Linked DNA regions of Homo sapiens. The protein of the gene in region 2 interacts with the protein of the main gene of each other region in a pairwise test. Each region holds a gene or a part of one and is shown on either strand. Other genes may lie near its edges.

What was found.
Region 1: the proteins of MYB (region 2) and CLTC interact in binary tests that used the Homo sapiens proteins (3 or more experiments, as listed by UniProt).
Region 3: the proteins of MYB (region 2) and PPM1K interact in a two-hybrid assay, tested with the Homo sapiens proteins (one large-scale study listed by BioGRID and IntAct).

What each region holds. Positions count from the first base shown.
Region 1 is NC_000017.11:59,678,750-59,682,408, reverse strand, and holds part of CLTC (clathrin heavy chain 1), read right to left. Parts: intron 3,013-3,659; coding exon 2,890-3,012; intron 1,498-2,889; coding exon 1,352-1,497; intron 1,115-1,351; coding exon 931-1,114; intron 763-930; coding exon 570-762; intron 139-569; coding exon 1-138. UniProt on the Homo sapiens protein: Clathrin is the major protein of the polyhedral coat of coated pits and vesicles. Two different adapter protein complexes link the clathrin lattice either to the plasma membrane or to the trans-Golgi network.
Region 2 is NC_000006.12:135,215,744-135,219,402, reverse strand, and holds the end of MYB (transcriptional activator Myb), read right to left. Parts: intron 2,523-3,659; exon of another isoform or gene 1,540-2,522; coding exon 1,423-1,539; 3' UTR 231-1,422; downstream 1-230. UniProt on the Homo sapiens protein: Transcriptional activator; DNA-binding protein that specifically recognize the sequence 5'-YAAC[GT]G-3'. Plays an important role in the control of proliferation and differentiation of hematopoietic progenitor cells.
Region 3 is NC_000004.12:88,263,991-88,267,649, reverse strand, and holds part of PPM1K (protein phosphatase Mn(2+)-dependent 1K), read left to right. Parts: intron 1-2,514; coding exon 2,515-2,649; intron 2,650-3,659. UniProt on the Homo sapiens protein: Serine/threonine-protein phosphatase component of macronutrients metabolism.

The DNA.
Region 1 (3,659 bases), on a different chromosome or scaffold from region 2:
TTGGTCCATTGATAAATTCTTCTAACTCTGCAAGGCGGTTTGTTTTAGCCAGTGCGAATATCAGTTCTGTCTCCACATAGGACTCTCGAGCCTTCTTACGGGCCATCTGCAAGTACTTCACCAGTTCTTCCCAGTTTCCTAAGTATAGAAAAAGAAAAAATATATCCAAACACTAACATCCTAGTTTATCTTTCACCCAAGTAAATGAAAATTGCATTCATTTCCTTTTCAAGGAAACATGGATAATGACAAATGTAAACCGTGCAATATTTCACTTCTGTATTATCACGGACCAAATGAATAGATGAATTCTTTTTCCTTAAAGTTTTAAGATTAGAGCACTATCAGGATTTTATGAGACTTCAAAAACAGAAGATTCATCTTCCCCACTTGTAAGTTTTGTGAACTTACAAATTCACAAAATACAGCCTCTTTTTATCTGGACTAAGATGGAGCACTAAAAGAAACCATGCAGTATCCAACTCTTCTAAAATTCAGAATAGACAGATATCTTAATGCTTAGCTTAATCATTTTATGAGGTTTCAATACATAAGGTAAGAAGTCATACCACTAGTATTGGCAGCCTGAACAACTTCCATGTAGGAGGAAGGATCATCTGCTTTGATATAAGAATCAATGGCTTCTTTCACCATTCCTTTCTGCAACTGGGCTTTTGCAAGTTGACTCCAGACCGCAGGTTCATTGCAACGTTCAGCAAACTCATATGCCCGATCCAAGTTTCCAATATGCTCAATTAAGACCTAAGTATCCAAGTTTGAAATTAGGGTTAGAGTAAAATCAATCCTACCCAAAGCAATTACATTTAAGCTGTTAGTATTTTATTGCTGCTCTATTGCCGTAGCAACCAATTAGGCCCACCCTCATAGCACAGTGTTTAGTAATTCAACTTAGGTAATCTGAAGATTTACCTGAACTGCTGAAGTATTGACATCAAATTTCCGGAAAATGGCAAATGCTTCTTCAAACAGCTCATTGCTGATGGCGATATTGGCAATATCTGGGGCATCATAATTATCCAGGCGGTTAATATACTCCATAACACGTGTACGGTCAGCCTTAATTGCAGTGAGGATAAGGAGGTTTTGCAGATTCCTTTAAGAAAAAAAAGAATATTTTAAATGCAATATTTTAAGTTTATCCGACATAAAAAATAACCACTGTGACTAACGGAGAGGTTTTTGTCTCAAGAGGTAGGGTAGGGGGGAGGATATTAGAAGAGTGAGAATTCAGGCAACTTTCTCTGATCTTTTTGTTCCTTCCCAAAACTGATGGGCCATAATTTATTAAAGACTGACTATAAATAGCCAATGGATCCCTCTGAAAGCATACCTGTGTTCACTGAATACAGAGTTATCAAGGACAATTTTCTCCAGCAGTTCAATGAGTTCATTAGGAAGGTCTGCAGTCATGAAAGCCTTTACAGTTACTGACACTTCTTCAGGGTCCTGAGTCTCAGACAAAGCTGTTTGTACAACCTACAGAGGATATATGGGACATAAGTACTGAGAATCAAGTTGGTTTTAAAAAAGCGTAAGTTGGCCTCTCATTAGAAAACTTGAAATAGGCAGAAAAGAATGAAGTAGGAAAAAGACCTTTAAATTTACATAGAGAGGTCTTTCTACACAAATCTATACAATATGTATAATTGTGTTGAAAAATTACTCTAATTATATAATTTCTATCTTTTCCCTGATTAAAACATTATCCAGGCTAGCAATCATCATTATCACTTTAATGGCTACACATAATTCAAAATTCAGCTACACAGATGTGGAATTAAAATATCGGTAATTCGTCTGGTTTTGGCTATTTGCTTGGTTTTCTAGATGCTGCAATGATTTCCAACCATCGCCCCCACCCCCACAACCTTCCCCTAGGAAGCTTTGTAACTACTTGGGAATGTTGCTTAGAAGTGCTTCCTAGGAAAGGAATGAAATATTAATAGCCTTCAACCTATTCGTTTCCAAAATATTTTATTTATACTTATCTCAGGAGAATTTAAGACTCATTATAACAACTCTTCTATTTTTAGAACTTTTAAAATATGTTGTCTATTTTATTTAGGTATAAAACCCCATCTCATTTGCAGTTCTATACTTCTTATTAGTAAGATATAACACTGATGCACTTGGTCTTTTGTATTTTCTCTTATCCTTATATTTTTCTGACTTATTATCTTGAAGTTTCCAATCAATTTAGCCACTTAAGTGTTAATAATAGCAATCTTTAATGTTTAGTTTGTTATTTTCCTTTTAAACTATGATGAACCAAGAGAGTTTTATATAATTAAGTCAGGTCTTTTGGGATGTATTTTCTTTTTCTTTTTTCTTTTTGTTTTTTTGAGACAGTCTTGCTCTTATCACCCAGGCTGGAGTGCAATGGCGTGATCTCGGCTTACTGCAACCTCCACCTCCCGGGTTCAAGCGATTTTCCTGCCGAGTAGCTGGGATTACATGCACCTGGCTAATTTTTGTATTTTTAGTAGAGATGGGGTTTTACTACGTTGGCCAGGCTGGTCTCGAACTCCTGACTTCAGGTGATCCACCCACCTCGGCCTCCCAAAGTGCTGGAATTACAGGCGTGAGCCACCGCACATGGCTTATTTTTCTTAATGTATGTTATATACATATTTATACTTATATAAATGTACATTCATTTGTATATAATGTATATAATCAATTTACATTCATTATATACAAATGAATGTAAATTGAATATATATAAATTTTAATTTTCTTCTACTTTGTATTGCTTTCTCTCATAGTTATATATGATCCATTTGAGTACATGATGAGGGAAAGGATTGTATTCATAGTTAAAAATGTATAATTTTTACTGACAGCCATAAACACATTTGCCAATGTTACCTGGTCAATTAGGGGTCTCCTGTAAGGATTGCTTTCCAGCAGCACGCTGCCCCACAATTCTGGATCCTTTCGACGTACCAGGTAGCGAGAAAGACTTTTGAAGAGGGAATTCTCATTGCAAACCTAAAGAAGATATGATAGATTAATTTCAAGGTAAAAAGTAAAGGACTTTTTATAGCATTTTAGAGGGTATTTCCTATCTTTTAAACTATGTTTATTGATAATCTTACTGATATTGGATCTAGTTTTGGACTTTGATTCATGTACCAGTAATATACTGTTTTAATTATATAGACTTTGTAATACACAGTTCAACATCTGGTAGGACTAGTCCACTTTTACAGTTTTCAGTGTTTTACTAGCTGTTCTTGTGTGTTTATTTTTCCATGCGTATATGCACATGTATGTACATAAATGAGCATATGTATGTACATAAATGTAACTAAGCCCTGACCACTGAAAGATCTTAGAAGCAAATACACTAAAGCTCAGATCTTGACTTCTAATATTTTCAGAAAGTAGGAGTCTTGCTCTGTTGTCAAGGTTGGAGAGTGCAGTGTTGCGATCATAGCTCACTGCAACATTGACCTCCTGGGCTCAAGTGATCCTCCTGCCTCAGCTTTCTGGGTAGCTTGAAACCAAGTGCATGGCACCTCCCCCCAGCTAATCATGTAATTTTTTGTAGAGACGGGGGGCTCGCTATGTTGCCCAGGCTGGTTTCAAACTCCTGGGCTCAAGTGATCCTCCTGCCTCGGCCTCCCAAAGTGCTG
Region 2 (3,659 bases):
TAGACCCTGACTGATGCATTCTGGAAGATTCCTCCCCATTGTCCATGTGATTGTTTGTGAACTATTTAACTCAGTTTGCTTGTTCTTTCTTTTCCATTGTAATGATTCCTGGCTTCTTCACACGAAGTGCATATGGTGTGCAATTATTAGAGGAAAGTGCCTTGAGTCTGCTCCATTTTCTTTAAAGTGTAACTGTTGTCCATAGTGACAAATAAGAGAGAAAACAAAAGTAGGTAAAATAAGGGCACATCTTTATTTTGCTACAAGGCAGTAAGTACACCGTCATATCTCAAAAGTTCAGTGCTGGCCATCTTGCATCAAATGTTCTTAAGGCAGTGACTGGCTATCAACCACAGTTTCTGTCTCCCCAGTTGCAAACACAGGATCCATGCAACAGTTCTGAGACCATACACTTAGAAACCACAGGGGATGCGGATCAAATGCAGAACTCCCAAATTATAAAACAGTCAGGCTACACTCAAAACAAAACATAGAACATCAACAACACACATCTCCCAAAAAAGAAGTGCAACGCATGCTTGTATAAACCAACAATAACAAAAAAACCACAATAAAAAATGCAGAGTCTCCCAAACAAGTTTTCAAATGTATTGCAGAAGGAAAAAAAATGTATATATATATAAAATTAAAAAGTCTGAAATACTAGTGCATAGTCAATTACCTAACACCAAGTTTCTTTTCTTTCTGTCCAAGCTCTACTGCCCCTCTGATACTAGCAGCATGTCTACAGGCTAAGACCATAGCAGCAAAAAACGTTTTTCATTTGGCATTTACAAAATTAAATTACTGAATAAAAATATAATTTTTTATAAAACTATTTCTTACAGTAATAATTTTTAAAGCAAGCTAACAGAAAACTCATAAAATGGTTTGGTACAATAAATGTACCTTCAATGTCATTAACCATAAATGAGCATTTACAATCTGGATTAAATGTCACATGGTATTAAGTCTACACTTAGAGTAATGCTTTTACTGATTTTTAAAAATATATGCATATGTTTAGTGATCGAGAAAAGTGAAATACTGGAGTACCTTTTAATGTGTCAAATTTCAAAAAACCCATCACAGGAAAAAATACTGATCTGTTGGATCCTTTAAAATACAGATAAATCATTTTATGTTTTTTTTAAAAAAATCTGCATTAAGATATTAACAACTGGCTACAATTCATTACCTAATAATTTAGGTAAGACTGTTATTTATTTTTAAAAATCCTTTTAGTTGGGTGAAATCCAAGAAGACTTCATTCAACTAAATGCACTTGGTGCTGCTCTCAACTGTTGTACCACAACAAAAATAGGTTCTTCTCCCATTCATGAAAAGTTTCATGTTGAGGAATGATATATCCCAAGTCAACTTGAAGTGTTCTGAAAACCATAATGCTTTTCTGGAAATGTCTCACATGACCAGCGTCCGGGCTGAGAATGCATTCACGTATTTACGAGCTTGACTGGAAGATGTCATCTGCTCCTCCATCTTTCCACAGGATGCAGGTTCCCAGGTACTGCTACAAGGCTGATGGAGAAAGGGATGGCAACAGGAGCGTCAGACAAAGAAGCTCATTCTATAGACCCAGCAGGGCCAGCACTGACCAACAGATGGCAAGTGGTTGACACCAGGAAGGCTTTGTCAGATAGAATCTTACCTCCCTGGCCCCCAGAAATCCGGTGTTCTTAAGGGATATGGATGATCAGAAATTATTTGTTAAGAGGGAAAACCCATTCCAAGCAGCTTCATAAGATATAATCCCATCTTCATATTTTAATGCCTTCCGTCTATTAGGCAATTTTACAAAGCTGGAGACAGGAATGAGCATTATTCTCCAGATACCTAAAGTGAGCTATGGCCATCTACTCACTAAGCAAACTGCTGAGTGCTGTAGCCACAGTGCAAAGCAGCTCATGCACGCACTGGAATTGATCAACACCTGCTAAGTGTCATATATATGTTTTCATCAATTACTTTAGAAATATTTATCAGTATAGTTTAATTTTTTTCCTTTTTTTTTTGAGACAGAGTCATGCTCTGTCATACCAGGCTGATCGGTATTGGTGCAATCACAGCTCACTGTAGCCTCAGCCTCCTGGGCTCAAGTGATCCTCCTACCTCAGCTACCCAAGCAGCTGGGACTACAGGCACGTGCCACCAAGCCCCACTAATTTTTGTATTTTCTGTAGAGACAGGGTTTCACCATGTTGCCCAGGTTGGTCTTGAACTCCTGGACTCAAGTGATCTGCCGGTCTTGGCCTCCCAAAGTGCTGAGATTACAGGCATGAAGCCAGTATAGTTTAATTTTTAAAGATACACTAGAAGATACAAGATGGACCTAATATCTAAGGACAGCATCTCCATGCCAGGGACAGTGGCACTTCACATTTCACATGCATTATTTCATTAAAACAGCACCATCACCTCGGGAGGCAGGTTCATTCTCTCTCTAGACAGGCTCGAGAATGGAGACAGAAAATGGAGGTAACTTGCCCAAGGCCACTCTGTAGGTAAGTGGTGGACTGGCTTTGAACTTTGCTGTCTCCAGCTCCTGCGATGCCTCTGTGTTGCCTCAAATGCAAACATGTACTATTTATGCCCCACTTGGTTTCCAAAAGGACGTAAGATGATTAGAAAAGAAATACAAGACAACAGAGTTTAAAAATGTGTATAAAGAAGAGTCATAACAGGGAAACAAATTTGGAAAAAATAAACACAGTTGGCCCTCTGCATCTGTGGGTCCCATATCTGTGGGTTCCACATCCATAGATTCAATCAATGGCAGATCAAAAATATTCAGAAAAAAATAATTGCTGTGTATTGAACATGTATAGGTGTTTTCCTTGTCATTATCCCCTAACAATATAACAACTATTTCCATAGCATTTACATTGTATTAGCTATTATAAGTAATCTAGAGATGACTTAAAGTATACAGGAATGAACGGGTACAATGTACATTATTCCAACGATAAATACACTCACAGCCTCGACTTTGACCACTATGCAATACATCCATGTAACAAAATTACACTTGTACCCCACGAATGTATACAAATAATAAAAAAAATTATATGGTAAGATGTGTGTAGATTATATGCAAACACAATGCTATTTTATATCAGGGACTTGAGCATCCCTGGACTTTGGTGTCCTTGCGGGTTCTGAAACAAATCCCCCATGGACACTAAGGAACAACTGTAACATGAAGATGGTATGAGATTTGCACACGAAACACCAGCATAAAGCACAGTGCCCCAGCTAGATGTAACCTCCTGCTTGACTCTGATCTCTCTAGCAGTCAATGCAGAGAGGGGAACAGAAACAAACAGATATAAGATTTGGTGGCTGTAAGCTCAAAAGGAAACCAGTGGGTTAGAAAAGGCACTATTCCTGGTATTGCTATCTGGAGGGATTATTTTCCATGGGACAAAAGAATAAGAAAGGCCTTAGCTGTTCAGAGCCTACAGTGTCCTTTATGAGACAGAATGGACACAGGTGAAACAGGAGGAATAATAACAGGCCGTGTGCGCAGGTTTGTGGTGTTGTCCATGGGAAGAGGGGATGGGACACTGAGGAACTGTCAAGGCAATGCTGTGGGGAAAGGGTGAAAACAGCTAAGATTAGGGGAGAGAGAGGTGGAAACG
Region 3 (3,659 bases), on a different chromosome or scaffold from region 2:
TCCAGTAAAGAAGGACTGATGTCCTGCCACCAGGCAAGTAGAGGCTGAGGAAGTGTACCCCTGCCTTTTCAGTGACTTGACTTTAGCAATCCTCAATATTTCGGGGAGAAATATTTTGGCTTCCCTCAGTTTGAAGTGTTAGGTTTTTGTTTCACCCCAGCTATGGAATTCTCCTGGTGAAATGGTCCTGCTGTTCTTCCTCACCTGCACCCAATCAGCCAGCATCACCTGCACTCAATCATGCAGCATCACCTGCACCCAGTCATCCAGCATCACCTGCACACAATCAGCATCACCTGCATCCAATCAGCCAGCATCACCTGCACCCAAGCAATCAGCATCACCTGCACCCAGTCAGCCAGCATCACCTGCACCCAATCAGCCAGCATCACCCACACCCAATCAGCCAGCATCATCTGCACCCAATCAGCCAGCATCACCTGCACCCAATCAATCAGCATCACTTGCACCCAATCAGCCAGCATCATCTGCACCCAATCAGCCAGCATCACCCGCACCCAATCAGCCAGCATCACCTGCACCCAATCAGCATCACCTGCATCCAATCAGCATCACCTGCACCCAATCAGCATCACCTGCATCCAGTCAGCCAGCATCACCTGCACCCAATCAACCAGCATCACCTGCACCCAATCAGCATCACCTGCATCCAATCAGCATCACCTGCACCCAATCAGCAGCACCTGCACCCAGTCAACCAGCACCACCTGCACCCAATCAGCATCACCTGCACACAGCCAGCATCACCTGCACCCAATCAGCCAACATCACCTGCACCCAATCAGCCAACATCGCCTGCACCCAGTCATCTAGCATCACCTGCACCCAGTCATCCAGCATCACCTGCACCCAATCGGCCAGCATCACTTGCATCCAGTCAGCCAGCATCACCTGCACCCAATCAGCATCACCTGCACCCAATCAGCTAACACCTGCACCCAATCAGCCAGCATCACCTGCACCCAATCAGCCAGCATCACCTGCACCCAATCAGCATCACCTGCACCCAATCAGCCAACATCACCTGCACCCAGTCAGCCAGCATCACCTGCACCCAATCAGCTAGCATCACCTGCACGCAGTCAATCAGCATCACCTGCACCCAATCAGCATCACCTGCACCCATTCAGCCAGCATCACCTGCACCCAATCAGCATCACCTGCACCCAATCAGCCAGCAACACCTGCACCCAGCCAGCATCACCTGCACCCAATCAATCAGCATCACCTGCACCCAATCAGCCAGCATCACCTCCACTTGGAAGCTGCCCCAACTTCCCTTTTCCACCAAGCCAAATAATCGCCCACCTCTACTTCTGTGGCATCCTTTGCATGCTACTAATCAGTGTCTTCATTGTCCTGAACTGCCCCCCAACACACACCCAGTCCATGAGCTGACAGTTCTCTAAAACTCCTGAGCCACTATAGTCTCTAGCACAGTATAGTGTAGGCTTCCAAAACTGGCAGCAAACACTTGTTAATTAATTGCATGAAGGGTTTCAAGTCTATAGATATCCCACATCGTGTGTTATAGATATCCCACTTCATTTTATCTAACAGATACTTAGGCAGAGTTTACTATGTGCTGGGCTCTGTTCAAAATAAGTACTACTATCCCCATTTTTCAAGGAAAATCTAAAGCATACAGAGGTCAATGCACCTCTGCTCACCCAGCCAGATAATAGAGGCAGGATTCAAATCCTAGAAGCCTGCTCTTAGAGACAGCACTCATAACCATTACATTGAGCTACCTCTCACCATTGGGCTATCTGGATTCTCCCTTTGTGATGTTAAATTATGGAATTAAATCAAGATATCTTGAAGGGTGTTTGCTAAATTGTTAGGCGTGATTACCTCTGGTGATGGGATTTCAGAGGATTGCAACTTCTTTACTCTTTACTTTTAACTACTATTTATATTTTACTAACTAAATATTAGCTTTATCCTTGCTGGTTAATTCTAAATGTTACTACTTTTGCCCAACAGGTAGGCTTTACATTTTCACTGTTTGCCTATGTATTGGTCTGTTCTCACACTGCTAATAAAGATATACTTGAGACTGGGTAATTTATAAAGGAAAGAGGTTTAATGGGCTCACAGTTCCACATGGCTGGAGAGGCCACACAATCATGGTGGAAGGTGAAAGAGGAGCAAAGTCATGTCTTATATGGTGGCAGGCAAGAGAGCATGTGCAGGGGAACTACCCTTTATAAAACCATCAGATCTTGTGAGACTTCACTATTATGAAAACGGCATGGGAAAGACCCACCGCCATGATTCAGTTACCTCCTACCAGGTCCCTCCCACAACACATGGGAATTATGGTAGCTATAATTCAATATGAGATTTGGGTGGGGACACAGCCAAACCATATCAGCTTACAAGCTGTTACACAGATGACCGCTTAGCAAAACAGGTAAAATCTTTGAATTAGCGAGATTGTGCTAAGGCAGAGTCTAGCTTATAATCATAGGCATTTGGTTCTGATTGCAGTTACATCATGCTGATGACAGCTTCCTGGTCCTCACCACAGATGGAATTAACTTCATGGTGAATAGTCAAGAGATTTGTGACTTTGTCAATCAGTGCCATGATCCCAACGAAGCAGCCCATGCGGTGACTGAACAGGTGACCCAGAGCTTCTGCCTGAAAAGTCCCAAGGAGAAGGAAGGAAAGGACAGTCCAGGCATTGTGTTTTAGCTTTTGAGTGTTGCAGTGAATTTTACACTTGATTCCATAATATTTCCAATTATAAAATTTTTATTTCCCCAAGTTAAAATTTTAATATGCCAAGGAAATGTGCTTTGTTTATTCTTTGGCTTTGTATATACCTTGAAATGATAGTAACAGCAATAGTAAATTATAATAGTAAACTAATATTCACTTGCTATGTGTCAGACAATATTCATATGTATTAGCTCATTACTGTATGTATTGTACAGTATGTACAGTTACATATATTGTAATCATCACAATAACCCTATTAGGTTGGAGCTATTATTGTCCTTTTTCACAGATGAGGAAAACAGGTACAGAGGCTACAGAGTTAATCACTGAAGGTCATAAAACTATTAAATTGCAGAACTGGACTTCAAACCCAGACAACTAGGTTCCCAAGTCCAACCACTTGACCGTTAAACTAGAGTGCTCCAAGCAAATATCCAATTTGAAGATATAGCATAGTCACCTTCTGGTTATTCAGAATGGGTGTGTGGAGAAGATAAACCAAAATACCAAAAGGCATAGGGATGAGGTTGTGTGTCAGTCAGAACTAAAATTAAAAGAAAGCTGGGTAATATCCAGTAAAGAAAACATAAACTATGCTTCGTATTATTTAAAATATTAGAGGCATGTTTTAATTCAACAGCTATTTTTGCATTTCCCAAATTAAGATAATAGACCTTACTTTAAAAGTATTATTTGCTTAGATGGGCAAACATGATTATAATATATGAATTATTCATTTGGTTACTGCCTTCACCCGTGCTAAACAGGGTATTCATGAAATTGAGGAAATAGGCCCAATTTCATGGATGAACACTTCTTTCCTAATTTCAGCTGCCTGTCTTGCAGATATTTGCATTCTAATTCACAAAGGTAATGAAATTTGTAATGAATGCATAGTGTTCCATTTTATT